Homo sapiens: one gene and its partners. The protein of the gene in region 3 interacts with the protein of the main gene of each other region in a pairwise test. Each region holds a gene or a part of one and is shown on either strand. Other genes may lie near its edges.

Region 1 (7,835 bases), on a different chromosome or scaffold from region 3:
AGGGGATGATGGAGGCCTCCCGGAGGGGTGAGATTGGAGCCATGACCTATGGCAGACAAGAGGAGCCTGCCATGTGTAAGTAGAAGGAGAAGGCCAGGTGCGGCAGCTCACGCCTGCAATCCCAGCACTTTGGGAGGCCAAGGAGGGCAGATCACCTGAGGTCAGGAGTTCGAGACCAGCTTGGCCAACATGGTAAAACACCAACTCTACTGAAAATACAAAAATTAGCCGGGCGTGGTGGTGCACGCCTGTAATCCCAGCTACTTGGGAGGCTGAGGCAGGAGAATCGCTTGAAGCCAGGAGGTGGAGGTTGCAGTGAGCTGAGATCACGCCACTGCACTCCAGCCTGGGCAACACGGCAAGACTCTGTCTCAACAAAAAAAAAAAAAGAAAGAAAGAAAGTAGAGGGAGAGAGTTCCAAGCAGGGGCAGCAGTGTGTGCAAAGGCCCTGGGGTAGGAACGAGCTTGGCTGTTGGAGGAGCTGAAATATATCTATGGGGCTGCATCTCTGTGGCGTCCTATCCTCTCTGCACACACGTTTACTAACCACCATGATCTCAAGGCAGGCACTGGCTGGAGGGCTCTAAAAGATCCAAAGCTTAATCCCAAGTGGTGAGGCGAAGGAGGGTTGGAATGGTCAATGTCTGAGCCAGGACAATGTCTAAGACCAGTGATCTGGTCTTAACACCGGACGAGTCACCTCTGTGGATGCCAGGCACTGCGTCCTTCAGCCATGACTGGTGTGTGGGGTCACGCAGGGGGTGCTCACCTCATGTTGAAGGGGGCCATCAGCCGCACCACGTACTGCCGGTCTTTGGGGAGCTTGAGTTTGGGGATCTTTGATGGGTCAAAGTCCGGCGGGTAGTATTTCTGCAGGGGAGGAAGGAAACGTTGGGGGAGTTATTTTCAGAAGCAGGGGCAGGACATGGCAGAGGGAAGGGGCTCTGGGGAGCTGTGTCGGGGGTCCCCAAGCCCACCCCAGGTTCCGCGACAGGCAGGGAGGACTCGCAGGACTCAGTACAGTCAGAGGGAGGCCAGGCACAAGCTTCCTGACTCTCTCCTAGTGGAGTTATACAGGACGCATTTAATTCTCCTAAATACCAGTCATGACAATACACATGAAATGCTGTCTACACGGGAAGCTCTAAAAAGCCAGGGTTTGTTTTTGTTTTTGTTCTGAGACGGAGTTTTGCTCTTGTTGCCCAGGCTGGAGTCCAGTGGCGCGATCTTGGCTCACTGCAACCTCCGCCTCCTGGGTTCAAGCGATTCTCCTGCCTCAGCCTCTACAGTAGCTGGGATTACAGGCGCCCACCACCACTCCCCGCTAATTTTTGTATTTTTAGTAGAGATGGGGTTTCACCATGTTGGCCAGGCTAGTCTCGAACTCCTGACCTCAGGTGATCCACCTGCCTTGGCCTCCCAAAGAGCTGGTATTACACACGTGAGCCATCATGCCCTGCCCTTTGTAGAGGTTAAGCTTTGCTTAGCACTTCTGTTGTTCAGGCAGGAGACCGAGTTCCCCGAGGAGTCCCAACTCCCCAGCAATTCTGTAGAGGGTAAACCAGGACTCTGTTAGCTCAGCCTCCCAATCACGATACTACATCCGTTTCCTACAGAGTCATCTCCCTGGATCTGAATCCTGAGGAGCTGAAACCTGCAGGGCTCAGTTTACTCCTCTGTGAAATGCGCACACTGTCCTCTGTCTCCAAGAGTCTTTGCACGCATTCCTTGAGGCAAGGGGGATAAAGTGCTCTTTGCAGTGTCTGGCACCCAGTAGGTGCTCCAAACACAAAGTGCTTTATTTTCCAGTGGTGCAGTGGAGGTATCTGTCATAATCCATACTCACACTCCCTTTGTATCCCAGGGCTCCTGTTTCCCAGGAGTTCCTACAGCAAGCCTGAGACTGCTCTCCTAGAAAGACCTGCGTGGGGCCGGGCGCGGTGGCTCACGCCTGTAATTCCAGCACTTTGGGAGTATGAGGTGGGTGGAATGCCTGAGATCAAGAGTTCAAAACCACCCTGGGCAACATGGTGAAATCTCATCTCTACTAAAATACAAAAAAAATTAACCAGGCATGGTGGCGGGCGCCTGCAGTCCCAGCTACTCAGGAGGCTGAGGCAGGAGAATCGCTTGAACCCAGGAGGCAGAAGCTGCAGTGAGCCAAGAACGTGCCACTGCACTCCAGCCTGGGAAGCAAGCGCAAAACTCCATCTCAAAAAACCAAAAAACAGAAGTGTGCCAACAGTATAGTTTATACTGAACCTCTGCTTTTCTTCTGGGAGTCTGGAATCTTGGCCACTGTCAGGCAGAGGTTATCTGCATGACCAGACCCCAGTAAAATCTTGGCCACTGTAAGGCAGAGGTTATCTGCATGACCAGACCCCAGTAAAAAAAACAAAACACACACACACACACACACACACACACACACACACACACACACACACACACACACACACACACACACACACACACACACACACACACACACACACACACACACACACACACACACGCGCCACCCCACCCCACCCCACCCAAAGTACACGATTGGTTACAGTCCCCAAGTGGGGCGGGGCTTCTCAGAGCCACGCCCCTCAAGAAGAGGGCAAAACACGGCCGCCAGCATTTAAGGAAGCCCCGCCCCCAGAAAAAAAACCCTATCTGGTGGTGATTGGGTAAAAGCCCAAGCCACGCCCCGCAGGTGACTAACTACACCCCAGCCCAGAAGGGAGACTTAGCGAAGGCCCACCCCCCCGACGGAAGGCGATGGGGAGGAGTCTAGGGAGGAGTCTGGGAAGCCCCATCTCGCGGAAGGCCGCTGGGAAAGAAGGGTTCCAAAGAAGAGATCTCAGGAAGCTCCTCCCTCTCCCGGAGTTCCGGGATGTCCTGCTCCGATTGAAAAGCCCCAGTCGCCCAACACTTACGTTTAATACTTTTCGCTCCGACATCTTTGCCTTCTGATCACCTCGCAAGCACCTGAGAAATGGTTAGGCTGGGTAATTATCGAGCTTTTCCGACGGAAGCCTTACTTCCGCAAACGTCACTTCCTTCGGCCGCTATTATTGGCTGCAGCATACACAGCAGACCTCTTTCATTGGTTCCAATCCCCGCCTATCAAGCTGGAAGTCCCAGCGTCTTCCCTCCGGAGTTGCAACCTGAGTAGCGCGAAATAAGGATTCCGGGAGCCATGTGGAATTGGAGAATTTTGTATAGTGCGCTGCGCCCCCTAGAAGCGGGCAGCGGCTCGTTAAAATTTTGTAACGTGACCTCTTGTTCTTCATTCTTTTATTCAGCAAATATGTATTATGCGCCTGCCTTGTATTCTGGGCTCTGGGAATCCACACATCGTTCCTGGGCCCGCAACTCTCACATGGGGTTGGGGCCACACATAGGGTGACTTAAGAGGACCCTGGACGACTCTTGAGTCACAGACATTGACTTAAAGATCAGGCTCCAAACCAACTTCCTAAACATACGCAGTGTCTCCCAAATGTCCCTCCATTGCCCACCTGTGCCTTCCCCTTAACGAGGACTTCCCATCCCATTCCTTCCCCAGCCTCCTTCCCCAGCCTCCTCCCCACCTTTCATGGACGTTTCCTCTGTGTCAGATTGTTCCAGGAAAGGGGTCCGGATCCAGACCCCAGGAGAGGGTTCTTGGATCTCGTGCAAGAAGGAATTCAGGGCGAGTCCACAGTGCAAAGCAAAAACAAGTTTATTTAGAAAGTAGATGAATAAAAGAATGGCTACTTCACAGACAAAGCAGCCCCAAGGGCTGGTGGTTGCCCATGTTTATGGTGATTTATTGATGATATGCTAAACAAGGGGTGGATTATTCATACCTCCCTTTTTTAGACCATATAGGGTAACTTCTTGATGTTGCTGTGGCAATTGTTTGTTTATTTATTTATCTTTTGAGGAGTCTTGCTCTGTTGCCCAGGCTGACGGGCAGTGGTGCGATCTTGGCTCACTGCAACCTCTGCCTCCAGTGGTGCGATCTTGGCTCACTGCAACCTCCACCTCAGGATTCAAGTGATTCTCCTGTCTCAACCTCCCGAGTAGCTGGGATTACAGGCACGCACCACCACACCTGCCTAATTTTTGTAGTTTTAGTAGAGATGGGGTTTCACCATTTTGGCCAGGCAGGTCTCGAACTCCTGACCTCAGGTGATCTGCTCGCCTCTGCCTCCCAAAGTGCTGGGATTACAGGCATGAGCCACTGCACCTGGCCAAAAATCAACTCCATCTTAAAATTAACAAGGCACATTCGCTGCCAGTCACGAGCCAGGGTCATAAGATGTTTACAATTGAGAAAACGTCTTACAAATGCCTAGGAGGACACACTACTACAACAATGGAAGGTCCAGATGTCCTGATATTGCATAGCAATGTATGCTTTTAAGATCGTTATAGTCGCCAGGCGCGGTGGCTCATGCCTGTAATCCCAGCACTTTGGGAGGCCAAGGAGGGTGGATCACCTGAGGTCAGGAGTTCGAGACCAGCCTGGTCACCATGGCCACCATGGTGGAACCCCATCTCTACTAAAAATACAAAAATTAGCCGGGCGTGGTGGCGGGAACCTGTAATCCCAGCTACTTGGGAGGCTGAGGCAGGAGAATTGCATGAACCCAGGAGGCTGAGGTTGCAGTGAACTGAGATCGAGATTGTGCCGCTGCCCTGTGGCCTGGGCGACAGAGTGAGACTCCATCTCAAAAAAAAAAAAAAAGAGAAAAAAAAGAAAAAGATACCGGGCATGGTGGCTTACGCCTGTAATCCCAGCACTTTGGGAGGCCGACGTGGGCGAATCACCTGAGGTCAGGAGTTCAAGACCAATCAGACCAACACGGAGAAACCCCGTCTCTACTAAAAATGCAAAATTAGCCAGGTGCGGTGGTGCAGGTCGAGAGTTCAAGACCAACCAGACCAACATGAAGAAATCTTGTCTCTACTAAAAATACAAAATTAGCCGGGCATGGTGGTGCATGCCTGTAATCCCAGCTGCTTGGGAGGCTGAGGCAGGAGAATCACTTGAACCTGGGAGGCAGAGGTTGCGGTGAGTCGATATGGCGCCATTGCACTCCAGCCTGGGTGACAAGAGTGAAACTCCATCTCAAAAAAAAAAAAAGAAAATATGGTTATAGTCATGGTGTAATGTACTTAGGCACTAAAATGGCAAGGATATGTATGTATACTTTTTGAGACAGGGTCTCGCTCTGTCACCTAGGCTGGAGTGCAGTAACGCAATCATGGCTCTCTGTGGCCTCCACTTCCCGGCTCAGGCGATCCCCCACCTCAGCCTTCCGAGTTAGCTGGAACTATAGGTACCACCACACCTGGCTAATATTTGGCAGTTTTTGTAGAGACAGGGTTTCGCCATGTTGCCCAAGCTGGTCTGGAAATCCTGGGCTGAAGTGATCTGCCGGCCTCGGCCTACCAAAGTGTTACAATTACAGGTGTGAGCCACTGCACCCAGCCAGGATAACTTTCTTTAAGTCGACAAAGTACTACGTTTTGTCACGCGGTCAGCCCACCTACACGTGGACATAGCTTTCACACAGATAAGACCCCTATATAAGAAAAAACCGGTTGTACATGGTGGCTCACACCTGTAATCCCAACACTTTGGGAGGCCGAGGTGGGAGGATCACTTGAGCTCAGGAGTTCAAGGCCAGCCTGGCCAACACGGTAAAACCTCGTCTCTACTAAAAATATAAAAATTAGCTGGGCGCAGTGGTACATGCCTGAATCCCAACTACTCAGGAGACTGAAGCAGGAGAATCGCTTGAACCTGGCAGGTGGAGGTTGCAGTGAGCCAAGATCGTGCCAAGATCGTGCCATTGTACCTGGGTGACAGAGCAAGACTCCATCTCAAAAATAAATCAATAAATAAAATAAAAATAAAAACCTTAAAACAAAGACAAGGCGTTCCTCCTCTTGTTTTCTGAGGACGCCCTACTTTGTAACTGAGTAGCCTTCCTTTTTTTTTTTTTTTTTTTTTTTTTTTGAGGAGTTTTGCTCTTGTTGCCCGGGCTGGAGTGCAATGGTACAATCTCGGCTCACCGCAACCTCCGTCTCCCAGGTTCAAGCTATTCTCCTACCTCAGCCTCCCAAGTAGCTGGGATTAAAAGCATGTGCCACCACGTCCGGCTAATTTTGTATTTTTAGTAGAGACGGGGTTTCTCCATGTTGGTCAGGCTGGTCTTGAACTCCTGAGGTGTTCAAGAGGTGATCCACCCACCTCAGCCTCCCAAAGTGCTGGGATTACAGGTGTGAGCCACCACACCCAGCTAGGGACCCCTTTTCCTGGCACCAGGAAGACAATAATATGGGACAAGGAATGGTGTTAAATAAAGTTTACAGGAAGCCATGGGTTTGGACTGAGCTCCTGCACTAGGCCCAAAAGACTAAACCAAAATGAAGTCCCTCATGCGGAAGTTTTACACCAAGCTGAAACTAAGTTGTTTTTCTGGTTTTCCAAGAAATCGAGAACTGGAAGGAAGTGGGGAGAGAGAGAGAGAGAGGGAGAGAGAGAAAGAGAGGGAATAGTCAAATCCATGAACAGAGGCAGGCAGATCACCTGAGCTCGGGAGTTCAAGACCAGCCTGGCCAACATGGCGAAACCCCGTTTCCACTAAAATACAAAAAATTAGCGGGGTGCGGTGGTGGGTGCCTGTAATCCCAGCTACTTGGGAGGCTGACTCACGAGAATTGCTTGAACCTGGGAGGCGGAGATTGCAGTGAGCCCAGATCATGCCACTGCACTCCAGCCTAGGCAACAGAACCAGATTCTGTCTCAAAAAAAAAAAAAAAAAGGCCAGGCACTGTGGCTCATGCCTGTAATCCCTGCACTTTGGGAGGCGGGTGGATAACGAGGTCAGGAGATTGAGACCATCCTGGCCAACATGGTGAAACCCTGTCTCTACTAAAAATACAAAGATTAGCTGGGCAGGGTGGCACACGCCTGTAGTCCCAGCTACTTGGGAGGCTGAGGCAGGAGAATCGCTTGAACCCGGGAGGTGGAGGCTGCAGTGAGCCAAGATTGTGCCACTACACTCCAGCCTGGGTGACAGAGCGAGACTGTCTCAAAAAAAAAAAAAAAAAAAAATCCCTGAACAGGCCTGTTTTAGCCAGCACGATAGTCTCCTTTGCTCTAAACTTGACAAGAAAAGTAACTTTGAAAAGACCAATCCACTTTTTGTTTTCTATTTCTGCTTTACTCAGCCTTTTTCTGTCTATAAAACCAACCTCTTTTTCAGTGAGCTGAGATCACCACTGCACTCCAGCCTGGGCAACAAGAGTGAAACTCCGTCTCAAAATAAATAAATAAAACCTGCTTTGCAAAAGTGGAAGGTTTGGCCGGGCATGGTGCCTCATTCCTGTAATCCCAGCACTTTGGGAGGCTGAGGCGGGTTGATCATGAGGTCAGGAGTTCAAGACCAGCCTGGCCAACATGGGGAAACCCCATCTCTACTAAAAATACAAAAATTAGCCGGGTGTGATGATGGGCACCTGTAGTCCCAGCTACTTGGGAGGCAGAGGCAAGAGAATCATTTGAATCCAGGAGGCGGAGGTTACAGTCAGCCAAGACCACGCCACTGCCCCCCAGCCTGGGTGACAGAGAGAGACTCTGTCTCGGGAAAAAAAAAAAATGGAAGGTTTAACAGACTTTAAAAAAGAAAGAAAAAGAACCCCTAATGTTGTCTGCTCAGCTCATGGAAACATTCTGAAACTGGTCCAATTGTTCCATAAAACGAATACTTATGATTATTTGAATAAACACAGAAATGGATCCTCCCTAGTCTTAAAACTTGAAACTTACATTTGTCTCATCTCAG
Region 2 (7,054 bases), on a different chromosome or scaffold from region 3:
CTAGGGCTTTTCTGTCTGGAGTTGCTTGGGAGAAAAGCTATATCTAAAAGAGGGGCTAGGTGTCCAGACAGGAACCTTGTCTACTCAGTAGCAGATGGGGGAAAAGGAAGATTGGGGAAAACGACGAATAATCTTTTTTTTTTTTTTTTTGAGGGGGAGTCTCACTCTGTCGCCCAGGCTGGAGTGCAGTGGCGTGATCTTGGTTTACTGCAACCTCTACCTCCCAGGCTCAAGCGATCCTCCCAGCTCCGCTTCCCAAGCAGCTGCAACCACAGACATGTGCCATCACCCCCAGCTAATTTTTTGTATTTTTGGTACAGACGGGGTTTCACCATGTTGCCCAGGCTGGTCTTTAACTCCTGAACTCAAGCTATCCACCCACTTCCACCTCCCAAAATGCTAGGATTACAAGAATTATTTTTAATCAAGCACCTGCCTAGCATGAAGTCCACCCCACCCCACTCCCCAAAATTACTTTTTTCCTTAAGTTGCCACTTTAGAAATCTAAACATTTTTAAAAGTAGGAAGTTTAAATTGCAATAATATAAAAGACAAAGATTCATTGTGATCTTACATTAAAAAAAAAAATGAAATAAACTCACAGGGATATGTGGCAGTGTAATTGTGACTTCATCTCCTTTGCCAACTTGAAGCTCTCCTTCACAGGAAGTGTCTATAGATGCTGGTTTAAAATCATCTAAAGGGAAAGGAAAAAAAGCACTTACCCACCAGGTTACTTATAATAAGGGTTTCCTGGGCATCTCCATTTAAGAATTAAAATTATTACTCAGATGAATGGAAAATAAAAATAATTTAGAATTCTTAAAAAACTGTTTCGTTATGGAAAACTTCAGATACACAAAAGTAGAGAGAATCGTACAATGAGACCTGGTATACCATTATCCAGTTTCAATTATTACCAACTCAGGGACAATCTTGTTTCATCTACACCTCCACATACTTTTCCTCTGACCCCCTTTTGATTATTCTAGAGGGAAAAAAGAATTTACAGGCCATTTTATTAAACAAAGATATTCCCTTCTCCCAAGGGAGAGAGGAAAATTGTCTCATCATCCATAATAAGTTGCTTTTTTAGGGTTGTGAGGATCAAAAGTAACAGCATATGAAACAGATTCTGTGACTGTAAACTCTATATGAAATATGAAAGGCCACAGCATCATCAAAAGCTGATTTCATTCCGCATAGAAACTGTCAAAATTAGGATTTGCCATACTCAAGTTCCATAGCTGTTTTTTGTTTTTTTTTTTTTTTAATAGTGATGGGGTCTCACTATGCTGCCCAGGCTGGTCTCAAACTCCTGGGCTCAAGCTATCTGTCGACCTCGGCCTCCCAAAGTACTGGGATTATAGTGTCAGCCACCACTCTCAGCCAGTTCCACAGCTTTAACAAAGACACTTCGTAGATGTTCATAGCAGACAACTGAACTGTATCTCCGCAAGTTATCCTGCTCGTGTTTCTAAACTGCAGTTAGAATACAACATAATAGCCATCTTAATTCACATTCACACCTGCCTCAAACTGCAGGACAGGTGCACACATGAACTATATGATTTAAATTCCACATTGCCCTTCACCAAAAGAAAACATCAACTTAGTAAACTCTTCAGGAAATGATGTTCTTATCTTATTCCCATCTCTTCTCTCTGAAAGAGCTGGATCTGCTGTCAGTAGGAAGCATAGCAATGGCATGGCAAGTGACTACACAAAGATGGGATTTCATTATCTAAAACGCCCTCTTCACATGTGTTGAGTCACATCTATTAGGTCCTCTGACAAAAACAAGTCTTAACAACAGCGTTAGCACCACGGAAACCAGAAGTTCATGAATCACGGAGGGATGCTCTGTCAGCCAATTCCTAACTGCCAAACCTTCACCCAGGACATAGGGTGGAAGTGCACTCTCTCAACAGCGTCTATAATTATGTAGAAAAAGGTCCGGCATAATGACTATTTGGACATTCCTTACGCCTGCTCTCTTCTGCTTCCAAACGTAGACCAATCTTTAACCTATCCCAGGCTCACGAACTCTGATTTGACTCTTTACCCACAAGGAACTTGGTCTGGAGGAAAAGCCCGGGTGGTATAGGTGACCTCAAAAGACATCCAAGTCAAATGAAGCACAGAAAGGAGATGGAAGAAGACTCTGATGAGGCGCAGAGAGGATGCCAATTCTTTGGCTGTAGAGGGGACAAAGCACAGTATTTGGGAGTCCAGGACCAAGTCGGAGGAGAAAAGCAGGGAAGAGAATGGGTTCTAAGGCAGTGGATGAGGCTCATAACAAACAAGAAGCGTCTTTTAAATGTGGAGAACCCTGATGGGAGCATCGGAAAGGAGGGGAGGGGTTTCGAGGGAGAAGTGGACCCGGATAAGAGGGGGGAGGTTTGCCTTGGGGGAGGGAGGTTTGCCTTAGGGGCGAGGTTGGGGGCGGGGAGGGATGGAAATGGAAAGAGGCCAAAGACCTTTGGAACTAGTGTTTGAGACTGTGAGGTAGAAGAATAGTAGGGAGTGACGAAGATTTGGGAGAAATAATCTGGGTAAAAGAAGGGACAAATCGATGTCCCAAAGGATTTGGGGTTCGAGAGAAAGTAACTGACGCTGGCAGGGGGTTCCCTGGAATCTGAAGGGCCGAGGGAAGAAAGGAAGGAGTCAAGGTTGATATGTGGCGGCTGGAGCGGCCGAAGGGAACCGTGGGGAGCGCTGACTTACAACGAATAGTGTGGAAGGAGGCCCGCGGCCGCTTCTCGAAGCTCTCCCCGAGCCTCAGGCAATGTTCCTCGCGGTCCAGCAGCGGGTTTGCGGTCCCATTCATGGCCCCGCACCTGCCTCGCACCCAGATCGGCGCTCTCCCGGTGCAGCCGCGATCCGAGCTTCTGGCGCTGGCGTCTGGGAGGACTGTGCTTCCGGGCCACCGCTCTGGAAGACAAGGAGAGCCGAGCCGGCACCCACCCGGGTCCAGAAGCAAGTTCTCTCCTCTGCGTGGGGGTGAGAGAGGAATCTGAGGAGGCAAGGCCGTGGGACTTCCGGCGTCGGGTAGGAACTTCCGGGTTCCTAGCGGAAGTGGCGGGGGCGGTGCCATGGCAAAAGAACTCCCGGATAATCCGAATTCGTGGTCCTCAGAATTGGTTTAGGGTTGTTTCGCGGTTCTTCCCGTATTCTGCCTCCGAGGCCCAGTGGGGCTGGCTGTGGGGTGAGTGCGCCTGGCCCTAGCCCTGCAGGTGAATTTAGGAACTGATGACGGTGAGCCCTGAGCGTGGCTGACTAAATTAACGCGGGTCGGCTAGCCATCATGGACGCCCTCCTCAGGGTCTAGGGGCCCATGCAGCCTAGTCTATCCTGAGGGTCCTGAGATGGATCCTCGGGACCTCAGCCACGCGTCATTGGGTCTCTTTCTCCACTTTGCCCGGTGATGGCGGTGCGAGGGTCTCAGTCCCTGCAAAGTGACGCTCCCTCTGGTTCCTATGACAGCCTCTTGTGAGTGTGATCAGGAAATGAGCCCACCCAGGCTTAGCTTCATTTCCCCCGAAAAAACGGAGGTCCGACCCTTGGGAAACGATGACCTCACTTGTATCTGACAATTGACCACCCGCTTCCAGCTAAGGCCATTGTGGTTTTTAAGTCACCCCTTTCGCGGGCACCGAAAATTGAGGAATATTTTCTTCGCAAGGTTTCCCAGTCAGTTCTTGAGAGCGTCCTTTTTCGTAAACTAAATCGATTTATTGTAATAGTTGACTCATCTGGTTTGAATAAAAGTATGGTGCATGAGATAGTCTGGCCACTGAAATGAATGTAAGCCCACTGAAGGTAGGGACTGTGTGTTTGTCTTCTTTGTGACCTCTCATATAGCGGGAAGGATTTTTTTTTGTACAGTCTGCATCTCATAAACATTTGGTGAATTGAACCTGGCGTCTTGAACTGTAACCACTAACCAGAATCTAATTCTTTTCTCTGCGAAGCCCCCTGTGCTGTTTGAGGCGTGAAACTCACCTCAGGAAATGTATCTGATCCATTAGCGTGGATTCATATTATTTGGTGATGGAGAATCTTCAGCTGTGTTAAGTGTTACCGTCAGTTTCAGAGATGGCTTCTTTGCAAAGGAAAGGGCTGCAGGCAAGGATTCTCACCTCTGAAGAAGAGGAGAAACTGAAAAGAGACCAAACTTTGGTGTCTGATTTTAAACAGCAGAAATTGGAACAAGAGGCTCAGAAAAATTGGGATCTTTTTTACAAAAGAAATAGCACTAATTTCTTCAAAGACAGACACTGGACCACCAGAGAGTTTGAGGAGCTAAGATCATGTAGAGAGGTAAGCTAATATTACGCCTTATCTGAGCTGTTCTTCATTTAAAATGTGAAGAGGGTGCCATGGCTCATGCCTGTAATCCCAGTACTTGGGGAGGCCAAGGCAGGCGGATCACGAAGTCAAGAGATCGAGACCATCCTGGCCAACATGATGAAACCCCGTCTTTACTAAAAATACAAAAATTAGCTGGGTGTGGTGGTGCTCGCCTGTAGTCCCAGCTACTTGGAAGGCTGAGGCAGGAGAATCGCTTGAACCCGGGAGGCGGAGATAGCAGTGAGCCGAGATTGTGCCACTGCACTCCAGCCTGGTGACAGAACGAGACTCTGTCTCAAAAGAAAAAAAAATGTGAAGAGGTGTGCTGTATTGCATTCCTAGGGAGAGTGCGAAGTAGAGAATTTAAGAAGCCTATCAAAATGCTTTGCGTTTTAGGAGAGAAATATACTGTTTGGTCTTAACACCAAAGTTTTAGCAGTTTCTGGTTTGGTTAACATATAGGAGAGAGAACTTTAGTGGGTGTTTTCTATTTCTTTAAGCTGATCTGATAGTTGTAAACATTATATATTAAATTCAAGAGCCAGGTCTGGTGGCTATTGCCAGCTACTCCAGAGGCTGAGGCAGGCGGCTTGTGCCTGTGAATAGTCAACATGAATTAGCCAAGCCTAGGCAGCATAGTGAGACCCTATGTTCTGAATTTTAAAATTTTAAACATTAAAAATTTTAAAAACAAAAATATAAATTCATGCTAAGTGACTTCAGTGACAGATTCAGAATAATATAATAGTTAATGTTAGTAACTATTTACCATGGCTGTTTTCTACATGGCCTATCATTTGACCCTTATACCGGCTCTGTGAAGTGTAAGTATTAGTATTGTACTCATTTGTCCCCAAGGTAAAATTGAGGCACAGAGCTGTTTAAGTGATTTACCCAAGGATAGAATGCAGGGGAGGAGTTGAGATTTGGGTGCTGGCAGTTTAACTCCAGAGCCGAGTTAGCCATTGTGCTGTTTTTTTCCTCCACACCAAATTGTTAATGTTGGATGACAAATGAAGTACCAGTATTAGCTTTTGCTTATTAGTTCTCTTGTTGATCGTCTGCTCCATGGGGTCGGAGACCTCTCATATTCTGGACCTTTTAGTTTGGTTTATTTCTTCATTATGCAAATGTGATATACTATAACTTTGAGCTGTCTTTCCCCAGTTTGAAGATCAAAAGTTAACAATGCTTGAAGCTGGCTGTGGGGTTGGAAACTGTTTATTCCCACTTTTAGAAGAAGATCCGAATATCTTTGCCTATGCCTGTGATTTTTCTCCAAGAGCCATTGAATATGTTAAGGTTGGTGCACCATCTATGTATTCTGCTGTGTTTCTGTTTTCTTGCCGATCTTGTTTGATCTGCCTTTTTTATTCATTTGCCCAATTCTAGTCTTCCCTGGAGCTAACCAGCTATAGTCACCATACATGTAGTTGTCCTGCTTACATACATATACAGTGCATGTAGAAACACAGCTTTATTCAAGAAAAGCAGGAAAAAATACCATAATAACATCCATATAATTAACATCTTTTGCTTTACAATTTTTCTTTGCTGAACTATTTTAAAGTATATTACAAATGTCAAGACATTTCACTCCTAAATGTTTGCATACATCTCCCCTTAAAAAAGGCCTTTTTCTACACAACCACAATAAGTTTATCATATTTCACAAAAATAACTATAATCTGGCCTGCCATGTTGGTTCGCACTTGTAATCCCATCAGTTTGGGAGCCTGAGGCTGGTGGATAGCTTGCACCCAGTAGTTCAAGACCAGCCTGGGCAACATGGTGAAACCTTGTCTCTACCAAAAATACAAAAATTAGCTGGGCATGGTGGTGCTTACCTGTAATCCCAGCTAATTGGGAGGCTGAGGTGGGAAGATCACTTGAGTCAGGGAAGTGGAGGTTGCAGTGAGCCAAGATTGCAGCACTGCACTCCAGCCTAGGTGACAGAGCAAGACTGTCTTTAAATAAACAAATAAAATAACATAATCCCCCAATGTTATTAACATCCATTCCAAATTCAGATTTCCCCAAATAGTTCCCGGTGTCTTTTAGTTTTATTTTTTACTTTTTTTAGAGATGGGTTCTTTGTCACCCAGTTGAAATGCAGTGGCATGAACATGGCTCACCACAGCCTCAACCTCCTGGGCTTAAGCGATTCTTTCACCTCAGCCTCTCAAGTAGCAGAGACAATTTTTTAATTGTTTGTAGAGATGGGGTCTCACTATGTTGCCCAGGATGGTCTCAAACTCCTGGGCTCAGGTGATCAACCTGCCTCAGCCTCCCAAAATGCTGGGATTACAGGTATGAGCCACTGTACCTGGCTTCCAGGTGTCTTTTATAGCTGGTTTTTGTTTTTGTTTTTGTTTGAGACATGGTTTCACTCTCACCCAGGCTAGAGTGCAGTGGCCCAATCACAACTCACTGCAGCCTTGACCCCCCTGGCTCAAGCAGATCCTCCCACCTCAGTCTCCCAAGTAGCTGGGACTACAGGCATGTGCCACCGTGCCCAGCTAGTGTTTATTTGTTTATTTATTTATTTTAGAGATAAGGTCTCACTGCGTTGCCCAGGCTGGTCTCGAACTTCTGGGCTCAAACAATCCTCCCACCTCAGCCTCCCAAAGTGCTGAGATTACAGGCGTGAGCCATGGCAGCTGACCCTGGCTAGTTTTTAAATTTTTGTAGAGATGAGGTT
Region 3 (5,807 bases):
TTAAAGACCAGCTGGCAAGAATGATGGGAGGTTTTCCAGAAGTGACTATGGGCAAAGCCACGGTTATTCAGAACCCTGATAAGGGACCAGGGCACACAACACAGACGCTCCGTGGAGTTGGACAGGCCCACTCTGTGGGTGAAGGTTTGGTAGTTATTGACCCAGAAAGCCACACACTTTTTTTTTTTTTTTTTTTTTTTTTTTGAGATGGAGTCTCGCTCTGTCGCCCAGGCTGGAGTGCAGTGGCACGATCTCGGCTCACTACAGCCTCCGCCTCCTGGGTTCATGCCATTCTCCCGCCTCAGCCTCCCGAGTTGGGACTACAGGTGCCCGTGACCACGCCCAGCTAATTTTTTTGTGGTAGAGATGGGGTTTCACCGTGTTAACCAGGATGGTCTCGATACCCTGACCTCATGATCCGCCTGTCTCAGCCTCCCAAAGTGCTGGGATTACAGGTGTGAGCCACCACGCCCAGCCAGCCATACACAATATTTTAAGTGAAAACCACAGGTTATAAAACAATACAAATAGTATAATCCACTTTATAAGTTTTTAAACAAATATACTTATGCATAGAGAAAATCTGGAAAAATATATGCCAGCTATAAAGTGGTTCTTGCTCATGGGATAAATTGTGGGAGACTTTTTCCCTTTTTGCTTCTCTGTGTTGTGATTTCCTAAAGACAGGGCAGTGGTGTCCCTAGACTGCTCTGGAACTGCAGGACCTAACAGCCTCACTGTGTCTGCTCACCCAAGTCTGACAGGTGGCAGGGCAGTGTCTGAGGCCCACTGGGATGCAGACCCAGGAAAGCTGGGGTGGGGGGCTTCTGGTCCCCATCTCTGCAGCCTCATCCTCTCCCCAGCTACACAGACCCAGATGGTCACTGTCCTGGACCAGATGAAGGCAGGCACCTACAAGCTCACCTTCGACACTGAGGGCTACTGGAGGAAGAGGGGGCAGGAAAGCTTCTACCCACATGTGGAGGTGAGAGCCCCAGTGGGCTGGAGGGGGCTGAGGCTCATGACTCACTGGGATCTGCAGGCCAGGTCCTGCTGGCCGGGCATCATTTAGGCAGTGGGCAGACTGGTCCTGGGCGGTGGCAGGTAGGTGAGCTCACTTGCTTTGAGCTCCCAAAAGAAAGGTGTCCAGGCAGCAATAGACTCTACGAGGACACACCCGTCACTCACCTGCCCAGGGTCAGGCTTTGTGGGGAGGCTGGGCCAAGGGTGATTCATCCCCTCTTTGTTGACAGAGGTTTTCATCTGAGCCAACTCCAGCTCTCTGGGCCTAACCTCACTGCCTCACCCCACACTGGAGCCGCCGCAGAAGCGCCTGACTTACTGGGCTGTGGCTTCTGTGGAGTGTCCCTCTGGTGCGGAAGGTTCACCCCATCCCAGACCCTCAGTCTGGGCTGCTGAATTCTCTCAGGTGTGTTGGGGCCAGATAGGTGGTTTGCTGCTATCCCCTTATACTCTCTCCTGGCCTCTCCATCTCAGGTTGTTTTAACCATCACCAGCAAGGCCCAGAAGTTCCACGTGCCCCTGGTCCTACATCACCTACCGAGGGAGTTAGAGCGAAGACTGGCAGCGGGAGGCTGCCTGCCCGTTCCCGCACGCTGGCTGCACCCACCCAGCCCTCAACAGAGCGGGCTTTGTGCTCATCAGGGAGCATTGGCTCACCACTTCCTAGGGAAGTCCCGGCCCCCTGGAGAATCCCACTGGGCAGCTGTGACTCAGGTGTCAATGAAGTTAGTGCCAGCACCTGCAAAGCTGTCCATTCGGTGGGACAACAGTGGCGCGAAGACAGGCAGCACAGCGCGGCACTGCCCCAACCCCCAGGTGAGTGCGGGGCACTCTGAGAAGGTGCCGCCGACTGTGGTCGGAGGTGAGACCAGGGAGTAGGCCTGGACACAGGCTGGACGTGCGGCACCCAGGGAAGGGAGCGACAGGGACACCATGGGTGAGGGTCCTGCAGGTGGTTCTCCTCCACAGAGCCAGGAAAGAGGATGGCAAGAACATGTGAAAAGCTTTCATTTGCTGATGATAAAATCTAAAAAACTTGCTGTCCTTGGTGTGATAAGGGGTGTCATCCCGAGTGTTCCTAGGCTGGTTCTCTGGGCTGTGGCCCCCCAGGGGGGCAGCTACGTCGGGGTGCCCACCAGTCCCGCGGGGCCCTGGCCCAGTGTCTGTCCGATCACAGCTGTTTCCAAGGGCTTGAAGCCCACGTTGTCCAGAGGGATCCCGAAGGCCAGCAGCTTTGCCTCATACGTGCGCAGCAGGTCGTTATGGGCCTGTGGAGACAGGGCAGTGTCAGGGAGCTGAGGGTCCCCACGCTCAGGACCACCAGAGCTGAGTGCAGCTCCATGGAGGGGCAGCGTGAGCATCACGGTGCAGAAGGATAAAGCCAAAGGCTTATCAGTCATTTCCCGTGTGGGACACAGCTCCAAGCACCTTCACTGCGTTGGCTCAGGTAGCACGACAGGGAGAGGCTGTCACTATTCCTATTCCACAAATGACGAGACGGAGGCAGAGGGCAGGGACACTCAGGGCAGAGCTGTGGTCTGGGAGGGCTCTGGGCCCTGGCTGGGTGTTTCCCACTCAGGTTCTTCACGCCCTCCCTTCCCCTGTTGAATGACGTCTGTTTCCTTCCCCGGTGGGCACAGCACCTTCTGACTCCCTGCCCAGGGGAAGGGGCTGACCAGGGAAGCGTCCAGGTCCCCCCCTACACCCATCCCAGCAGAGACATGGCCTAGACAGCAGTGCACTGCCCCAGACCACACAGAATCCAGATGCTCTCGGCTATGACTGCACCCTCACGTGGGGACAGTGACAGCTGCCTTGTCAAACGAGGTACGAAGTGGGCACAGGTGGGGTCCTCAGAGACCGTCTGCATTTAGAACAGTCTGGGCACCGAGGGGGTGCCCCTGAGGGAGGGCAGGGCACAGCCGTACCTTACAGACCTGGGCCAGCTCATACTGCAGGTCCTTGATGGTGCTGTTCTTCGACTCAAGAACATCCTGAGGAGAGAGAGGTGATGGGAGTTTGAGACTCATCTTTTGGCCGAGGCAACGGGAGCGGCCTGGGGACTCCAGTGGGCGTTCTGAGAGATCCAGCGAATAGCAGCCTGGTTTGATGGATGCATCCATCCACACAGGGTTGTCAGCAGAAAAAGGTCTCCAAGGGTGGAGAGAAAACAAGGAAGAAGCAGAGAACTGGGAGCTTGCACAACCTGCCTCTCCAGCAACAGTCCAGGCCAGGCACTGCCGCTCACACCTGTGATCCCAGCAGTGTGGGAGGCCAAGGAGGGCAGATCACTTGAGGTCAGGAGTTTGAGACCAGCCTGGCCAACGTGGCGAAACCCCGTCTCTACTATACGAAAAGTAGCCGGGCACGGTGGCTCACACCTGTGTAATCCCAGCTACTCAGGAGGCTGAGGCATGAGAATTGCTTGAACCTGGGAAACGGAGGTTGCAGTGCGCCGAGATTGAGCCACTGCACTCCAGTCTGGGTGACAGAGCAAGACACCGTCTCAAGAAAAAACTCAAAGAGCAGTCCAGACCACAAGAAATGCAGATGAGGTGAGGGCAGGCAGCGTGCAGCCACACTGTGGAGACTGGTCACTAAACACCACCTACATATTGCTTAAATTTCTTGAGGCTTGTGAATGTACTATCTCACTTTTTTTTCTGAGATGGAGTCTCGCCCCGTTGCCCAGGCTGGAGTGCAGTGGCGCGATCTAGGCTCACCGCAACCTCCGCCTCCCAGGTGCCAGGAATTCTCTGCCTCAGCCTCCCAAATAGCTGGGATTACACCCGCCACCAAGCCCAGCTAATTTTTGTATTTTTAGTAGAGACGGGGTTTCACCATCTTGGCCAGGCTGGTCTTGAACTCCCAAACTCGTGATCTGCCCACCTCAGCCTCCCAAAGTGCTGGGATTACAGGCGTGAGCCACCGCGCCCGGCTATCCCACTTTTTTGTAACAGAAAAAAGTAGTCTTCAGCAGCGCTGGCCCCGCCCAGATGTGGGCAAGGGTCTCACCACGTGGCGAGGCAGGGACTTCTTGGGCTCCTGCCTGTGGGGCACTGCTGGGCCCAGCCTGGCTTTAGAGCCGTCCCTGCTGCCCACTGACACAGCAGCCCCCTCACACCTGGCCAGCAGCAAACAGTGTCCCTGCGGGGGCCTCTGTCATTTCCCCAGAAGATTCCTCACTTAGAAGTCGAGGTAACAATGACCAGGAAAGGAGGGGTTGACCCACATTTAGCTCCATCCTCCATCCTCACCCTGGCGCGTGGGCGCAGCTGCAATGACCCTCACAGGCCACGACTGCTCTCTTCACCCTCATTTCGGTGGCTTAGCAGCAGGCTGGGTGCAGCCCTCAGCCAGGAGCTGGAAACACGCCTCCCCCACCTCCCAACAGTGGGACCCTCACTCCCTCACCTGCCTGTGCTCACTGGGCCCAGTGCTGAGCAAACAAAGATGAGTTTTCAGTCCCGGGGCCACAGTGCCTCTGGCCCAGGTGAGGCCCCTCCTATACAGCCTCACTACCTCAGGCCCTGAGAGCCAGGCCATCCCAGATGACCAGGGTCCCACAGGCACCACCGCCCACTGGGCCGGGACCCGTCGTTCCCCCATGTGCAAACACCAAGTCACCTCGGCCCCTCCCAGCCCCACCTGTGGACTCAGCCTCCTGGCGGCTCTCCAACCCTCTGCCCGTCCCCATTCTGTGCTGGCCCCAACCAGCCCCCTCCAGCCCTGTGCTCCCCATCAATAGCAGAGTGGGCCCTGATCTGGTTCCCCTGCCCAGCCCTTCCACAGTTCCCAACTGGCCCGAAACTGGCCACAGGAAACCCATGAATGCCCCTCCTCAGTGGCCGACCGAGGGGTCTCTGTGCCTATCCGAGGAGCAGCACAGAACTGAAGACTCTTGCCACAGGGATGAGGCCGCCCACTGGGGTCAGGAGCCTGTCTAGGGCCTACCTCCAGCTTGCGGGACACCAGCGTCAGGGCTGCAGGGTCCAGGTTAGAGGCAGCCAGGACCTCGTTGAACTGCACCTCCTTCTTCTCCACAGCGGCGCTCAGAGCCTGCAGCTTGCGTTCTAGCACGAGGTTCTTGAACCCTGTCTTCTGCTGCACCTCCTGGATGGCTGCGGTGAACTTCCGATAGAGCTCGTCCCGCTCCTGCTGCACCTGTAGGGACAGCGCTGGGGGTGGGCGATGAGGCCCCTCACCTGGGGACATCTCGCTGGGAAGATGCTGCCTCCCACCTCTGCACCTGCCTGGAACACGCTGCCTCCCAACAGTGCCCACTCCCACAGCACCGGGGTCAGTGTGTTGTCCACACTGCCTGCGCCCTGGCCCTTTGTAGAGCCATCCACGCAGTGGAAGGCAGGAGGAACACATCAGCATAAGCCCTTCTCTCAGGAAGGTGTCTCTGGAAGCCATAAGTGTCCTGGTAAGAGCTGAAGCAGCCCCACCCTGAAAGCTGCTTCATGGGTGGCCGAGGCCAGTCTTGCCCGAGTGAGGGCTGTGGGCTCAGGTGAGATTTGAGATCCAGGGCATCCAGCAGGCCGAGCTTGCAGGTGGGGCCCCTTGGAGGATATGCTCCCTTGGCCAGCCCCAGATCCTGGCATCACATGTGCTGTCCGCCCCACAAATGGTGGATCTGGAGCACGGCCTTGGAGCCAGCTACCTGCCAGCCAGTAAAACTGTTCTTTTTTATCTCCTAATTCTTCTACTTATTAATTGTGCATTCTAAAAAAATCTAGACTTTGTTGAAGACTATAAAAAAGTGAACACCCTGAGCAGCG
Region 4 (7,026 bases), on a different chromosome or scaffold from region 3:
TAGGGGGATGAAAACACATTTTGTCAGTGTCAAGTTTATATCAGCAGAGCCACCCTGTGCTCCTAAGTCACACCTCGCAGGAATGGGAGGCAGAAAGGTTGCATTTAGAAGGAAAGGATTAGCTCTGGAAAGTGAGTTTGGACATTGAGGCTCCCCAGATCCATAGGGATGATGGATGTTGGCAAGGACAATGGTCACAATATAAGTAACAGATACCGATAACACTGCCTAGCATTTATTGAGTGCCCACTATGTACTAAGTATTGAGTAAATGTTCCAGAGCTGTTATCTTATGGTGGTATTTCTTAAATTTCTCATAACGATCCTATGAGGTAGGCTGCTTCACTGTATTTCCTCGAGTATACAAAGCCATCAATTCAATAAAAGCTTTTCACATCAAAACATATTAAACTTACACAACGAAGTTTTGTTGTGTCATGCTTTTCCTAACAAAATATAGAACATATTCATAACATAACCTCTTTATTCTTCAGGATGATAACGCAAGTTTGAATCGAAGCCTAGATATTCAGAGTCACAGAGTCTCCATGCACAACTGCTAATTGTAAAAAATATATATATAATAAAATTAAAATTAAAAAACAGAGTCAGAAAGTTTCTGGCTCCCTTTCAGCTGTGCCCATGCAGTTCTCCATGTCCCACCTGGGATTTCTTTAGCCCCTTTAGGATGGATGGTATAATTTAGAGCTCAGCGAAGAACAGAGGCTCCTTCCACATCTCCTGTTTTATTAAACTTGTGGCTTTCCCCTTCTTAATTGGATATCTGTCTTTTGACTAAGAAATACTTCACAGTGCATGACAATCACCAACCTTTCCTAGCTTTGAAAATTGTGTGATCTAAACTTAGAGATTTGCCTGAATCTGCACATGTGCTGGCACTGACATCCCAATTTCTCCTGTCTGGTGACTGACAAGGTTGTTATTGTTTAAGCATTGATTATTAGATGCTATCCTATTACTTTAAAAAAAAAATGTGCCCAGTCCGGTGGCTCACGCCTATAATCCCGGCACTTTGGGAGGCCTAGGCAGGTGGATCACCTGAGGTCAGGAGTTCGAGACCAGCCTGGCCAACATGGGAAAACCCCATCTCTACTAAAAATACAAAGATTAGCCAGCCAGTCATGGTGGTGCTCACCTGTAATCCCAGCTATGTGGGAGACTGAGGTGGGAGAATCATTTGAACCCGCGAGGTGGAGGTTGCAGTGAGCCAAGATCATGCCACTGCACTCCAGCCTGGGCAACAGAGTGAGACTCTATCTCAAAAAAAAAAAAAAAAAAAGTTTAAGGGTGTCTTAGAATTAGTTTGTAACACTGAAGGTTAAAGATATTAAACAGTTTACCTTCCATGTCATAGCTGGCAGGTGATGTAACTAGAATGCACACCAAGTCGGCTGGGTACTTCTCAACATTAAGGCTGTAATGACTTTCTCCTTCTTTCTCTCTTGAATCTTCTCAATGAGGCCTTCCTTCCACCATTCCTCCAAAACTGCTCTTGTCAAGGTTACCAAAGATCTCCACATGGCCAAATGCATTGACTAATTCTCAATTGTTATCTTACTTTCAGCAGCACTTGACAACTTTTTTTTTTGAGACAGGAACTCAGTCTGTTGCCCAGGCTGGAGTGCAGTGGCGTGATCTCAGCTCACTGCAACCTCCGCCTCCTGGGTTCAAGCTATTCTCATGCCTCAGCTTCCTCAGTAGCTGGGACTACAGGTGCGTGCCACCATGCCCAATTTGCCTGGCTAATTTTTTATATTTTTAGTAGAGACGGGGTTCCACCATGTTAGCCAGGCTGGTTTCAAACCCTTGACCTCAAGTGATCTGCCCACCTTGGCCTCCCAAAGTGCTGGGATTACAGGCTTGAGCCATTGCGCCTGGCCATTTGACACCATTTTTAGGAAACAATTTCTTGACTTGGCTTTCTTAGGTCTTCTATATCGACATCACCCTGAAAACCTTCTCTGCTGCTCTTTTTCACTTCTCCTAACCTGCCTGACCTCCAGATGCCGAGTGCTCCATGTTAACCATCCTCAGGCCTCTCTTGTCTTTCTGCATCCGCTCTTTGGTGACCCCATCTAGTCTCATAGCCACTTCCACACTCCCAGCTCTGACAAGTGCATCTGCAGCTCCCAGCAGCTGCCCACTCACCCTCCTGCCTACTCTCCATCACTCCCTGGATGCCAAATAGGCTTTGCAAACTGAATGTCTTCAACCAAACTCCTCTCTTTGGCATTGTCCCTGACTCCTCTCTTTCGCTCACTCCCTACATCTGATCCTTTAGCAAGTCCTGTCAGCTCAACCTCAAAATTACATTGAAAACTGTTTTTTAGAGACAGGGTCTCACTGTGTTGCCCAGGCTGGTCTTGAACTCCTGGCCTCAAGTGATCCTCCTGCCTTGGCCTCCCAAAATGCTGGGATTACAGACGTGAGCCACCACCACATCTAAATCCACAACTACCACCCTAGACTATTAGCCTGTAATTGGCCACCACTTCTATCCCCCGTCTCCTCAATAAGCTTCTTCCCCACCCGGAAGCCAGAGTGACCTTCCCCAACCTAAGGCAGATCAAGGTGTCAGCTGCTTAAAGCCATCCAGGGGCTCCTTGTCTCAACCCAAGCAAAGCCAGAGCTCTTTGAGCTGCACAGCCTCCTTGTTCTCTGATGTCTGCTGGCTCCTGGTTTCTGTTTCTCCTTCCCAGCCTTGCTAATTGTTCTCCAGCCAGGCTGCTTCCCATGTGGGTCTCACACAGCCAAGCCCCCTCTGCCTCAGGGACTCAGGCTTTTATACTTGGGGTTTCTTCTGGTACCCCTCTCCCCCTAGATTTTCATATGACTTGCACCTCATTTTCTTTTCTTCTTCTTCTTTTTTTTTTTTTTTTTTTTTTTTGAGTCAGGCCCAGGCTGGAGTGCAGTGGCACAATTGTGGCTCACTGCAGCCTTGATCCCCGGGGCTCAGACGATTCTCCCACCTCACCCTCCCAAGTAGCTGGGATTACAGGTGTGCACCACTACGCCCGGCTAATTTTTGTATTTTTAGTAGAAATGGGGTTTCTCTAAGTTGCACAGGCTGGTCTCGAACTCCTGGACTCAAGCAATCTGCCCACCTCAGCCTCCCAGAGTGCTGGGATTACAGGTGTGAACCATCATGCCTGGCTGCCCCCTCATTTTCTTGAAGCCTTTTAAAATGCTACCCTAACAAAAGAAGACCTTCCTGCATAAAACAGCCACCTCCCAGAATTCTGTTCTGTCCTCTCTGCTCCAGTTTCCCCCGCAGCACTGGTACCCGCAGCACTGGTACCCGCAGCACTGGTACCACTTGCTATAGTATACATTGGTTTGCTTCTGGCCTCTCCACACCACTGTAACCCTAAGTTCCAGGAATGCAGGGACTGTGACTGTTTTAGTCACTTGCTGGGTCCCGAGTGTTTAGAGTAGAGGCTTGCATGAAGTGGGCTCCCAGTGAATGTTTGTTGAATTATCAGACAAAGGAAGAAGGAACGGAGCACCCGGTGGTGGAGACAGTGCTGGGCTCTGACATGTGTTTCTCTACTGCCCAGATCTGGAAGTCGGAATCAGCACTGTGCTGTGACCACTCCCACCCACGCTGACTTCTGTCTTGTGTCTTCTTCCAGGTCTACGGCTCTCGCAGGCTCTGTGAGGGCTTTGCTATGACCTCAGTCCCCTCACGGAGCCACGACTGCCCCTTGCTGCCACAGCCTTTCCAAGACCCTGCCCGGCCCTGCCCCATCCTCAGCCCCGAGTCACCATGGGCAGCGTCAGTAGCCTCATCTCCGGCCACAGCTTCCACAGCAAGCACTGCCGGGCTTCGCAGTACAAGCTGCGCAAGTCCTCCCACCTCAAGAAGCTCAACCGGTATTCCGACGGGCTGCTGAGGTTTGGCTTCTCCCAGGACTCCGGTCACGGCAAGTCCAGCTCCAAAATGGGCAAGAGCGAAGACTTCTTCTACATCAAGGTCAGCCAGAAAGCCCGGGGCTCCCATCACCCAGATTACACGGCACTGTCCAGCGGGGATTTAGGGGGCCAGGCTGGGGTGGACTTTGACCCGTCCACACCCCCCAAGCTCATGCCCTTCTCCAATCAGCTAGAAATGGTAAGCGGGGGTCGCTGGCAAGGGTAAGTGGGTTGGAAACGCAGGAGAAAGCAAAATGGGGGTGGAGAGCCTGGGGGTTCAGGGGGAGTGGTGACCTGAGCATTCAGACTCCTCAAAACCAGAGCGGCAGGGGTGCCGGCGGAAGCCTGTGGCCACACCGCAGAGATCAAACGTTTCACAAAGGAATTAGAGCATCGCTCAGTCCCCCTGAAGCAGAAGTCTTGGGTCAGGCCATAAGCAAAGAGCACAGGGGATATGTGAGCTTTCTGGAGTCCCACTGAAATGTAGCTGGATTGTCAACGTAGGATCCAGGCGTTTGCCAAGCCTCGGGAAGGAGAGGGAGCCCTGTTCTCATCTGGAAGCACAGATGAAGAGGATGCAGGCCGGGAGTTAACCGCTTCTCTCCCCGGGAGACTCGTGGGGGTGGGTGCGGTCTTCTCATTTGCTGCCCTGGTGTGCATTAGCTCCTTGTTCAAGCTGCGCCTGGGGGCATCTTTGAATACAGGCTGGAGTTTTGTCATCCATTTACCAGAGATTAGGGCAAAGGAGGCCCAGGCACTGAGAAATCCAGCCCTCACACCAGCTCAAGCCCTCGTGCGTCCCACGAGTGGACACTGAAATCAATTTTCCTATTCAGTCCTCTGCCCCTTGCCCTGGGGAAATGAATCCCCGGCTTTGATTTACTAGGAAAGAGCCTCTTATGTTTGCATAGAGCATTCAGCTTTTCAAATTAAGGGGCTTGTAAACTGTGAAGCACTCTACCAGGGAAAATTACAGTTTTAAAAAAGGATCGTGATTTGGAGTGAGCCTCCCAACCCTGTAAGGAGGCCAGGTCCGTGTCCTTGCTCCAGGCTTAATGGAAGAGGCAGTGAACAGGAAGAAGGGATGGACCTAAAGAGGGACAGCAAGCTCGGCCAGCCTGATGCCCTAACTTGCCCCACACAGAGACCTAGAGCAGGAGCCTCAAGATGGTATTTATCACCTCGGGAGGGCTGGGGCAAGCTGGTGGCAGGTTGCTATTTCATAGAACAAAGTGCCCAAGTCGCCATTAGGGTTTTTCCTTCCTAAGAGAGATGACATTCAGCTGCTTCAAAGCAACAGGCAAGGTCTGCTGAGACAATTGACCAAGAGGGGTGCTGCGTGCGCTCAGAGAGCCCAGACTGGCTCAAGGTCGGCACGCGTGCCTGGGGAGGGAGGGTGCAATGCGCGCGCAGGGGAGGCATGAGTCACCGCGGTCCTTTTCCTCTACAGGGCTCCGAGAAGGGTGCAGTGAGGCCCACAGCCTTCAAGCCTGTGCTGCCACGGTCAGGAGCCATCCTGCACTCCTCCCCGGAGAGTGCCAGCCACCAGCTGCACCCCGCCCCTCCAGACAAGCCCAAGGAGCAGGAGCTGAAGCCTGGCCTGTGCTCTGGGGCGCTGTCAGACTCCGGCCGGAACTCCATGTCCAGCCTGCCCACACACAGCACCAGCAGCAGCTACCAGCTGGACCCGCTGGTCACACCCGTGGGACCCACAAGCCGTTTTGGGGGCTCCGCCCACAACATCACCCAGGGCATCGTCCTCCAGGACAGCAACATGATGAGCCTGAAGGCTCTGTCCTTCTCCGACGGAGGTAGCAAGCTGGGCCACTCGAACAAGGCAGACAAGGGCCCCTCGTGTGTCCGCTCCCCCATCTCCACGGACGAGTGCAGCATCCAGGAGCTGGAGCAGAAGCTGTTGGAGAGGGAGGGCGCCCTCCAGAAGCTGCAGCGCAGCTTTGAGGAGAAGGAGCTTGCCTCCAGCCTGGCCTACGAGGAGCGGCCGCGGCGCTGCAGGGACGAGCTGGAGGGCCCGGAGCCCAAAGGCGGCAACAAGCTCAAGCAGGCCTCGCAGAAGAGCCAGCGCGCGCAGCAGGTCCTGCACCTGCAGGTACTGCAGCTTCAGCAGGAGAAGCGGCAGCTCCGGCAGGAGCTCGAGAGCCTCATGAAGGAGCAGGACCTGCTGGAGACCAAGCTCAGGTCCTACGAGAGGGAGAAGACCAGCTTCGGCCCCGCGCTGGAGGAGACCCAGTGGGAGGTGAGGCCACACAGGGCTCATGGGTTTGGGTGGTCAGCGGTTTGGCGCCAGTACCCCCCTCTCCTTCTGGTGCCGGCCAATAGCGTGCAAACACAGACCGCGCAGGCAAGCGGGGCTAATGTGCTGGCTTTATCACCCAAAGAAGGGGCTCCCTGCAAACCATGTTGGGGGATCGACTTACATCTGAGCTTCCTCCTGTCCCCACCATCACCCTCATGGCTCCTAGATTTCAGTTTCCCAAGTGAGCCATTAAATCATGAAGCCGGAAGCCAGATGACCAAGGCCCAGCCAGGCTGTGGGCTGACCTCCCTTCCATCAGCTCCCAGGAGGCTCAGAAGAAGAACAAGCCGTGCCTGAGTTCAGGCGGGGCCAGGGGCCCAAGAGAGCACAGAATGCATTTGTTGCTTTGGAGGGAGGGACTGCACCCACTAGTAAGAGGGACCCTATTGGTGGCAGGTTTCAGTGATGGAAGTGGCCACTCCTTGCTGAAGTGTAAGTGGAACTTCTATTTGGTGAGCTGAGATGGAAACCTAGGAGAGGAAGTAAAGAGTCCCCCACTCACACACTTACACACTCACACACACTCACTCACCCGGTCACACGTGGAAATGAGGCATCTGTACCTGACCGTGCTGGAGAACCCCATAACCTCTGCATCTATTAGTGGGAAAGCAGCTTTTCTCACCAGCCTGGTGGTCTGGATGACTCATGGAGTTCAAGCCCATCGTTGAGGCTCTTTACATGCTCGCACCCAGCTTGGTCTGTCCACGTGCCTGCCTCACCCCCAGTTCAGAGTCCAACTCTCAGTCTACACGCAAACCCCTGGCTATGTGCAAGTC

Evidence for each region.
Region 1: the proteins of DRC4 (region 3) and YJU2 interact in binary tests that used the Homo sapiens proteins (3 or more experiments, as listed by UniProt).
Region 2: the proteins of DRC4 (region 3) and EAF1 interact in binary tests that used the Homo sapiens proteins (3 or more experiments, as listed by UniProt).
Region 4: the proteins of DRC4 (region 3) and LZTS1 interact in binary tests that used the Homo sapiens proteins (3 or more experiments, as listed by UniProt).

The regions. Positions count from the first base shown.
Region 1 is NC_000019.10:4,242,263-4,250,097, reverse strand, and holds the start of YJU2 (splicing factor YJU2), read right to left. Parts: upstream 3,019-7,835; 5' UTR 2,952-3,018; coding exon 2,928-2,951; intron 871-2,927; coding exon 770-870; intron 1-769.
Region 2 is NC_000003.12:15,423,556-15,430,609, reverse strand, and holds the start of EAF1 (ELL-associated factor 1), read right to left. Parts: upstream 3,013-7,054; 5' UTR 2,831-3,012; coding exon 2,728-2,830; intron 2,289-2,727; exon of another isoform or gene 1,983-2,288; intron 698-1,982; coding exon 603-697; intron 1-602. Other genes in the region: tRNA N(3)-cytidine methyltransferase METTL6, read left to right, coding at 4,099-4,323, 5,521-5,655. UniProt on the Homo sapiens protein: Acts as a transcriptional transactivator of ELL and ELL2 elongation activities.
Region 3 is NC_000016.10:90,039,680-90,045,486, reverse strand, and holds the end of DRC4 (dynein regulatory complex subunit 4), read right to left. Parts: intron 5,727-5,807; exon of another isoform or gene 5,188-5,726; coding exon 4,978-5,187; intron 3,018-4,977; coding exon 2,952-3,017; intron 2,586-2,951; exon of another isoform or gene 2,292-2,585; coding exon 2,142-2,291; 3' UTR 527-2,141; downstream 1-526. UniProt on the Homo sapiens protein: Component of the nexin-dynein regulatory complex (N-DRC), a key regulator of ciliary/flagellar motility which maintains the alignment and integrity of the distal axoneme and regulates microtubule sliding in motile axonemes.
Region 4 is NC_000008.11:20,251,943-20,258,968, reverse strand, and holds part of LZTS1 (leucine zipper putative tumor suppressor 1), read left to right. Parts: intron 1-3,653; 5' UTR 3,654-3,787; coding exon 3,788-4,132; intron 4,133-5,383; coding exon 5,384-6,187; intron 6,188-7,026. UniProt on the Homo sapiens protein: Involved in the regulation of cell growth. May stabilize the active CDC2-cyclin B1 complex and thereby contribute to the regulation of the cell cycle and the prevention of uncontrolled cell proliferation. May act as a tumor suppressor.